2 linked regions of the Homo sapiens genome follow. The protein of the gene in region 2 purifies or fractionates together with the protein of the main gene of each other region. This does not show direct contact. Each region holds a gene or a part of one and is shown on either strand. Other genes may lie near its edges.

What was found. The genes of interacting proteins can lie anywhere in the genome.
Region 1: the proteins of CDON (region 2) and PTCH1 purify together in Homo sapiens (co-immunoprecipitation; one study listed by IntAct). This does not show direct contact.

Annotation. Positions count from the first base shown.
Region 1 is NC_000009.12:95,501,780-95,506,287, reverse strand, and holds part of PTCH1 (protein patched homolog 1), read left to right. Parts: intron 1-4,508.
Region 2 is NC_000011.10:126,051,909-126,057,369, forward strand, and holds part of CDON (cell adhesion molecule-related/down-regulated by oncogenes isoform 2 precursor), read right to left. Parts: exon of another isoform or gene 4,091-5,461; intron 1-4,090. UniProt on the Homo sapiens protein: Component of a cell-surface receptor complex that mediates cell-cell interactions between muscle precursor cells. Promotes differentiation of myogenic cells.

The DNA of each region.
Region 1 (4,508 bases), on a different chromosome or scaffold from region 2:
CCGGGGGATTGTTTATTGTTTGGGCGCCTGGCCGGGAGCCAGGCCCGCCCGACAAAGGCCGCGCTGTAATCTACTCGGGGCGCTGCGCCGGCCGAGGTGTGGTGGGAGAGAGCGGCGGGGGCGGGACGGGGGCGCGGGGCCCCTCCGGGACGGACCACTCTGCGCGCCGGGGGCCCCGGGCCCGCCGCCGCTGCCGCTGTCCGCCTGGGCCGCGCCCCGAGAGGCGCCCCGGGGCTGGCCTCTCCCGGCCCCGCTCCGCGGCCCGGCTTTCTTCTCTCCCCCACCCCCACCCACCGCGTCCAAAGAAAAAGGAGTCGGGGAGAGCCAGAGGCCACCCCTCCGGCTGGCTGGAGTGTGCGCGCCCCCGGCGGCCGCGGCCGCCGCGCTGGGGAGGGCCGGGGGCGGGCGCAGCGCGGGGCTGCGGAGGCGGCGGCGTGTGTGGTCCTGTTTTTGGACAGCTTTCAACTCTGAGGGAAAAAAACATTTGTCTCAAGGTACAAAAAACGCGGGGTGGGGGTGGAAGGAGTGGAAAAAAAAATAGTAAGGCACAGACTGGAACGCATGTTTGCAAAGTAGATTAATGTTTCCTCGCGGGTGGGGGCTTTTTACATGGAATTATTCTGGGGGAAGGCTGCATTTTGCAGGCAAAGAAAAGAAATGTTTTAAGAACGCGGGGTTGAAGGGACCTCTCAGAGGGGTTCTGCCAGTCTTTTATCCACGTTCCTCAGTTTTGGGGTTCTTGAGACCTTAGCAAAGCAGTTGCAGATTTAAAATAGATATATATTTTTTCGAAGACAAACATTTTTACATTATTTTGGTGACAAAGGTTTCAATTTTTTTCCCCCGCTGGTTTCTTATTTATCTTTTTGGCAAGTTCCAAATCCTGCTATTTGGAAACACTTTAACCCTAAACACCACTTTGGGCATCCCTTACCTTACAAGAGGGTAGTAGGGGAGGGTAGAGGTGACTAGGTAGATAATTCAAACCAAAATACCTGGAGCATTCCTCCGGACAGCATGTGGAAGCTGAAGAGTTATGCGCATAATCGCTTCAGTGATCCCTTTCAGGATGCTGTTGGAGACCTTGAAGAATATTTCCTTAATCTCTCCTTGTTTGTGAAGATTCAGCTTGCAGAGTTTTGCAAGCCTGGGGTGGAGTTGGAGTATTTAGTTGAGAAGTGACAATTAAAATAATAGTCTACATAATTAAGACAAAACATTCCTGCCTTAAGTAGTTTGGTAATTAATACAAAAGCGTTCTTTGGATTGAATCCATGGAGTAATTTACCTCAGTTCAGCGATTCAGTATCACTGGTAGATAAAAGAAGGGTTTTATCGAGCAGCTATTATGCTCCTAGCAACAAGTTTCTTGAGCACCTATGATGTCCCTAGCACTGTGTTAAGCACCATAAGAGACTCAAGTGTGTGCGACACTGCACAATTTAAAACTATTAGAATTCGATGCATTTGGACTACATTTGGGTTCACAGCTGAAATGGGCTGTGAAAGTTACAAGAGGGTGGTAGGGGGTGGGGGGAGAGAACTGGAGACGGTAGGGGAAGGAGGGCATTTTAGGCATGGGCGGGACACCAGCAGGGGCCCCAGCTGAGGAGTTTGGAAGTGATGTGATTGGCTAGACTGTAGGGGCGCTGCCGTAGATTCTAGGACAGAATAGGGCATGAGGACAGGGAGGGCCGCTGCCGTAGATTCTTGGACAGAATAGGGCATGAGCACAGGGAGGGCCGGCTCATCCACCACTTGATCCAACCTGTATTTGTTGCCATCGGATGAGGATGACAAAACGTGATTTTGTGGTGTTCTTAGCAAGAGTTTTCAGTGGACCTTTGACATGTTGAAGGAGATAGAATGTGATTTATTTTCTTAACATTGCATATTTCTGGAAATAACTTGCTTTCTGCATAACACGACCCATTTCAAGTCCTGGAAGGAGATGCAGTGTGCTTCCTAGCAGTTTTATGGGAGCTGCCAGTTGTGTAGTGAGAGGGAGTAAAGTTTTTCTTTTTCAATGGACTGGATGAGGACACTTCTGAGGGGCACACTCACTTTGCTTACTTTTGGCAGTTTCAGCATGACTCACTGGTCTTGGGCCAAATGTTATTTACTCAGTACTAATACTGTCACTTGTTGAGCAACTGCCATGTACCAGGCATTTGTTATATATTATCGCATGCCTTACGATTCAATAAAATAGCTATTATTATCTTTTTTTTTTTTTTTTTTTTTTTTTTTTTTTTTTTTTTTTTTGAGACGGAGTCTCGCTCTGTCGCCCAGGCCAGACTGCGGACTGCAGTGGCGCAATCTCGGCTCACTGCAAGCTCCACTTCCTGGGTTCACGCCATTCTCCTGCCTCAGCCTCCCGAGTAGCTGGGACTACAGGCGCCCGCCACCGCGCCCGGCTAATTTTTTGTATTTTTAGTAGAGACGGGGTTTCACCTTGTTAGCCAGGATGGTCTCGATCTCCTGACCTCATGATCCACCCGCCTCGGCCTCCCAAAGTGCTGGGATTACAGGCGTGAGCCACCGCGCCCGGCCCTATTTTGTTTTTATAACATGATAGTGGATGTAATGTCTTTATGATGAGGATTGTCCCATTTTACAGATGGGAAACTATGGGTTGTCTGTTTGTCTCCAGGTCTACTTTGCCTACTAATGACATAAGTCACTTGTTCTGTTGCCCTGTCCTTGATCTCTCATTCATTCATTCATTCATTCATTCTGTGCTAGATTCTCCCCCTAGAGAAGAAGCGACAGTTTCATAAATGCAGATAGACCCAACTAGAGAGGTGACTATACAACAGTAGCCATATAGATTTAATTTCATTTTCAAAGCAGAAGTGATTGTGTAGAGATCTTGTTTGTGACAGAGTGAGCTGAGTGTTCACGTCAGCAGTAAGTAGTGTGAGCATTTGCATTCAGGAGTAAGATTTCCCTGCTGTCCTATACCTCAGTGGACGTCCGTGAATTGAAGTGAGTAATAGCTCCACATTTAAGTTCATTTTGTGCATCAGTCTCATAGATAAATTCCTCATCACTATCAGCAAAGAAATCTGTTAGATGCTGCTTTCTTGGTAGGTTGTTCTTAAGGTTCTAGACATGAATTTTTATATGAACTGGGCATCAACAGAGTGCTTGCTACACAAACGAAATGGATAGAGGTAGCATATTGCCCTAGTTAGAAAACAACAGAAGAGAGGAAAGTATGAGATTTTAAGGGGAGAGGGATGCTGAGGGATAGTTTGGAAGAAGCTCCTTCTCCTGCGGTTTAAAATCACAGGAGCGTGTGTGTGTATGCACATTGTCTTATTCTGCATATCCTCCTATCTGCCAAAGGCATGTTAATGTTATCTTTTTAATACAGCCAGCAAATTAAAGGGATCCACTCGAAAGGCTGTGTCTTCAAATTGACTTTCATGCTTTGTTTAACATGCTGGGGAAATGTGGCTTTATAAAGAGTTGGCTTTATAAAGAGGGCAGAATACATCAGCCACAATGTGCAGACTAATATATGCTAGATGAGAAAGAGTCCGTGTGTGTGCATGCGCGTGTGTGTGCGTGTGTAGGAATTGGTGATAAGAATTATTGTATTCTGTTGTTAAAATGTCCATATAATGATTGCCTTTTAATAAACTGTCAATTATATGTTAAGATACCAGCTTGAGTTTTAGGGTTATAGTGTTTGCTAATCAAAATTGTCAAATCAGTTTCACATATGTGCGGAGTAATGAGGTTTGATAGAGAATATGTTGACTGATGTAGTGGACATCTGCTGTTGCAGAAACACATGACCATGGCAGCAAGGTGGGGGAGAAACTAATTGTCATTGTATAAAAATAGAAGCGTTCATTCTGCACATGTTCTCAGTACCTACTCTGCACCACCATTGCAGAAAGCTCTCCAGAGAGATGTTGGTGAAAAGCCACAGTCTCTGCCCTCAGGGGAACTCCATCCAAACATTCAGCAGGTACACGGACTGGTGTGTGGGTAGTTAACATGAAGGACAGCAGTGCCAAGATGGCAGGAAAATCGGGGACATCTTCCAGGATGGCCTCAAGGGTGGAGGCCTGAGCTAGGCACAGGGGCTGGAGGGGAGAGGGTAGGGGGCATTCAGGGCAGAAGGAACAGCATAGGCAAAGGCTCAGAGAACAGGAATGTGGCCTCCTGGAGGGCAGCCTCCCTTTGTGGGTCGTTGAGGTTGGGTGGGAGCCTGGAAGCTGGGCTCGTCCCTCAGGGCCATTTCACAGAAGTCTCCCTGCTTGGCTGGGGGCTGTCAGCTCTTCCTACTAGCCATCCCTGTCTCACGAGTGTGCTCACGTGTTGGCCTCTAGTGTTTTCCCTGGAGCCACGAATGCTTCACCTGGATCTCACCTTTCTGGGCACAGACTGGTGTTATTTTTAATCTTGCCTGTTTCTTTGTTGGTATTTCCTTTTTGTTAAGCAGTTTTAACCCATCTCCCTCAGTATCTATTTCTTTTCATATCAGCCCCCTC
Region 2 (5,461 bases):
AAAGTTCTGGGATTACAGGCATGAACCACCGCACCTGGCCAACAATAGCTCTTTTAAAATGCATCCTCAAACGCAAAAGAAATAACACATAACATCAATTGTGTTTGCTAGCCTAATAGGAAACCACAGTTAACAGTCAATCTCATAATGACTCAAAATTGGCTTTAGTTAGCCATGGGATTAAAACAAAACAAAACAAAACAAAACAAAACAAAAAAAACTTTAGCTCTAAATGTATTATGAAAATTATACAAAAGACCTACATACAGTCAAAACATGATTACTGCAATTTCTTTTAAGAGAGGAACCCAACCAAAATATAAAATAATTTAAAACATGGTGACTAGAGCTTGGAATTGGGAACTCAGGGTAGAAATCTGATCTATTTACTTTTATTGTAACCTTAAAAAGGACTCATACTATGAAAAAGAAAGTATGCCTAATTTTCAATAAACAGAAATCAAACTACTGATTTAGAGATCAGAACAATTCTAATCAAATTATAATATGACTTGAAAATATGTTAAGTAGAGGTATACACACTTGACACTTGGTATCCACAGTTCCTCATCCAGGGATTCAACCAACTACAGACCAAAAATATTTGGAAAATAAAAATAAAAAATAATACAGGCCACGCGTGGTGGCTCACGCCTGTAATCCCAGCACTTTGGGAGGACAAGGTGGGTGGATCACTTGAGGTCAAGAGTTCAAGACCAGCCTGGCCAACATGGCGAAACCCTGTCCCTACTAAAACTACAAAAATTAGCCGGGCATGGTGGCAGGTGCTTGTAATCCCAGCTACTTGGGAGGCTGAGGCAGGAGAATTGCTTGAACCTGGGAGGCGGAGGTTGCAGTGAGCCAAGATCACACCACTGCACTCCAGCCTGGGCAACAGAACAAGACTCCGTCTCAAAAAAAAAAAAAAAATTAAAAATTAAAAATATACTGTATAACAGCTATTTACATAGCATTTAAATTGTGTTAGGTATTATAAGTAATCTAGAGATGATTTAAACAGGAAGATCTGCATAAGTTATATGCAAATACAGGGAACTTCAGCATCTAAGAATTTGGATAGCCACAGGCAATAGGGGGTGTCATGTCCTGGAATGGATCCCCCATGGATATTGAGGGACGACTGTATTCACAATTAGGTTTAAAATATGCTTTCACCCACCAGAACCAACTCAGCAGAACCTCACTATAATTCTTATTACTGTAGAAGAAAACCTGCCATTTCCTTTTGGATGAACATCCAAGATTTAATGGAAGAAACAATAAAATGACCCCATTTAAAAAGGCGATCACACAGTAAGATGCACCCAGGAGGTAAATCATGGGTACAACATAGCAGTTAAGACTCTAATGTGGCCCTACTCAGGAGTTTAGTAATCTATTAAGAACTATAAAAATACCTCCTCCAGATTTAGTAGTCCCAGGGTTTACTGGAACTACTGCTCGGATGCTAGGACACCAAACCGAAATCCTGATAATGAGCTGTCGTTATATCATGGCCACATCTAGAAATCTAATTGCACAGTGAGAGTGCATAGGATGAAATGGGAAGGAGGAAACACTAAATCAAATCCAACCGCTCTGATCGGTCATCTGATATTATTTGACTGGTGTTTTTACACAGAGGGATAAATGGCACCTTTCCTGCAAAACTGTACTGTCACATACATAATCACATTCAGACATTCAGCCACATCATCATTTTATGAGCCAGTATCAGATGTTTTCAATACATTGCAAGCTATGTAATGTATTGCATACCATATCGAGCCACATGGTGAGGTTTAACCCCATTTTCTAAACGAGGATTCCCCATACCCACTCTCATACTCTCATAGTCACCAACAGGAGAGGGACAGTGAGAATGACGGAAACAGAGGTTACTGATAAACCCTATGTCCATTCCAGCTGAAACCACGCTCACTCCCTAATTGTTACTGCCTGTTATTCACTGTGTTGTTGTTTTGTCATACCCACATCCTAAGGCCAAAATCATGAAAAGAAGCCAAATTAAATGGGCAGGAAAAATGTCTTATCCCCAGCTTGCAATGCTATTTTTCTTTTTATTGGAATAAGAGACTGCCAAGTTCTGATGTCACTACAATAATTTCATGGCCTGATAAAAGCAGTATTTTATCCATTAAACATTCGTTCCCCTTGCCAATTTTACCTCTAACCAGGCAGTGTGTACAATTACTCACTGAACAGATACCAAACTACAGTAAAATAAAAAATTCTAATTACTTTTATTCTGATACTGTAAAAAGCCAGTAACTGTCAGAAATTTCCCTGGCAAGAGACACAATCCTGAATATGTTTTTTAGTACCTATATACCCAGGAGAACCCCTGCAAAATACAAAAAGACAAAACATGACATCAGCTCTCTGGGCACTGAATAATGTTGCACAGAACTACTACATACATTTTAAATATATAAAATTGTTAAAATATTCAAAATATTTGACAAGGATTCCAGTCATAGTGTGATAATGCATGTCCCAGCATCTTCAATATGTAACTGTTTTTTTCTTTATCTAAAGCTTTCGTTTATCTTCATTACTTGAAGCTGTGGTATCACTCCCTGAACTTGAGAGTCATTGATGTCACTGAATTTTTACGAGCAAAATCGTGTGTTGAAATCATTCATGGATCTAGAGAAGATGGTTCAGCATCTTTCTACTCAGTGTGCTCCACCCAGCTCATCAGTATTATCTGGAAACTTGTTAGAAAGGAAGAATATTGGGCCCCACCCCAGACCTACTGAATCAGAATATGCAGTTGAACACACTCGCTCACCCAGAAATTCAAATGCACGTTAATGCCATCCAGGATATCTGAGTGTTTAGTACTTGTTCAGCAGAGTGCAAAGAAAGGGGTGGGTGGGCCAATGGTACATAGGGGAAAATCACATTGTCCTTAAGGAATAAAGGGGAGACTGACACGTATGCAATTATGATACGTATCAGTGCCAGGAGAGATGCGTTTCCAGCCTGCGAGAAAGCATGGTATATTCATGGAAGGCAAAGCAGCCGGGATGGCAGAAGCTTCCAGTAGGCATATAACCCTGTACATCCAATTAAAGACCTGGGCTTCAACAAGTGAGCAATTCAGGGACTTTAAAGGATTTTAATGAAAGCAGTCACGTGATCACATATTTACATTTCAGAAAGATCATTACTCAGGCAAAATGTAAGAAAAATCAATGATCTGGAAGGGGGCAAACCAAAACTGAAGACAAGGGGATGAGTTAGTAGCAGTTTAAGCAGGAGTTGCAAAGGCATTTTTTTCATCTCACATGCTGAATCTCCTCTGTCCCTCTCCCAAAGTTTGAGGAGGAGGATGGAGGGGTAAGGTAATGGTAACAGACAAGAGATAAAGAAGGCCCACTTCTAAGCTACAGGGAGGATGGAATTGGTATGGATGGGCATACATAAATATAAAACAGTAAAAATTCAATATACTTTTCTGTTTTATAAAATGGAGAAAATATTATTTTGGTGGTTCAGGATCCCACAGTTCCTTCCATCATTTTAAATATCAGTGATTAACATAAAGTACTATATTTACAGATACAAGATGTGTACATGGTTAAATATCTATGGATCCCAGAAAAGATCTTGAATATGGTTTTGATACTTGGACACGTCTCTGATACCGGCCTTTCTCCTCCTATATGAGTTATTTATCTCTCTTGTAACTCAAGTTTAGAAAAGTTGCAGTGGAGGAGGGACAAGAGGGACATTTATTAATGTTTACATATAATTTGTTGTAGGAATGAATAAATAACTGGGCCAACAAATGGCTTCAGATGTGTACCTATATAAAAAGGTAGTACATGCTATACTTTTAAGTATTATCATTTCTGATACCAATACACTTAGAATATTGAAAAAGTCCCTATTTAAGTAAGGAAGAAAGAATACCCGACATTTACTTGTTAGTGATAAACTAAGGATTACATTTAAAGTGAAAAGAGCCAGCAAGTCGAGGCAATCTCCAACTTTAAACTGGAGCTGGTTTAAAAAATGTATTTATCCAATGGCTGTTGGTAACTTTTAACATATTTCCTACCTCCAAAATCATGTACGTGGTGGGTATGTAGCCTAGGCATACCATAAAAGCCTATTTCATGGAACCTCAGTCCTACAAATGCCTTAGAGGTTATTTGGTTCAATGTTGCACCCAAGAAAGAGATTCTTCCCACAGCAGCCTTTGCAAATGCCATTACAACACTTCCAGGAATCAGGAGTCCATGCCCCTTCCAAACAGCACTGCTTCACATGAGGCAGCTCTATTTGTTGGATAGTTCTTCTTTCTTCTGAAACATAATCTGCATCTTTGAGGACGCCTATAGATCAAAAGATGAATCATGTATCACTATTTCAACGCTCCCAACCCCCAATGAAATCCTGACCACGGATGGTCTGATTTAGGAAGAAAAGGGGACAATTTGCCCTTCTCCAGTCCAGAGGAACCCATCCTGCATATGGCTGTATGTGAAGAATGACCTTGTGTCAAGAGCTATGAATAGTCAGATTTAATAAAATTATAAATGTTGAAAAATACAATGTCTCCTGAGAGAAAAATGGCTAGTGTTCAAGCAGAACACCCACAAAATCCTTAATCAACATTTCCAATAACAGAAATACAAGCTATTAACCACAGCCAAAGTCCCTTCCAAAATTTAAAACAAACAAACAAAAACCCTTCTGATTTCATCTACTGAATCATCTTGTCTGTCTGTGAAATAAATTTTATTTAGCATATTAGAGAATTTCAACAATACAAACAAATTCTGAATGTATAGGCATAGCCTGACCACAATTGTTAATAGGTTAGTGGCCAAAACTCTTCTTCCTGATATAAGTGCTTGGTCCTGTTCCTCAAAATCTTCCTGCAGTATAACATCCTAGCTCCACTTTCTTCCTTTTATGGTGGACTTTTCTTTTTTCTTCAGAAAAGCATTGTACTGTTTCATTTTAAACTCAAAGAATATTATACTAATGCTGGACTGGTGGTTACTTCTGTACAACGCTAAGTGTTGATTACGGCATTTAGTCCTAAGCATGAAGGATATAAGCTACCTTAGATGGTCCTTTTCCCCTATTTTGAGGCTCCCTCCTAAAAACACACACATAAAAATGAATACAGTTTTCAAAGTATTTGGTTTATGGAATTGTAACTGAAGGTAATTATACCTTCAAGTAGTGAATAAACCCAGTTCTGTGAATAAAAATGAGGTCATGGTTGTTTTCCTAAGATAGCCATTGGGATCTGATTTTCTAGTAATGTAGGAAGAAGTGTTATTTTCTTTTTTCCCCCAAAGACTGTGTATCCAATGTGCCAATAAAATGAATTATTATGAATTTCAAACCGCACAAAAGACTCTACAACAATTTACAAAGCATGAATTAGTACTGTATACATAAATAAATGTTATTC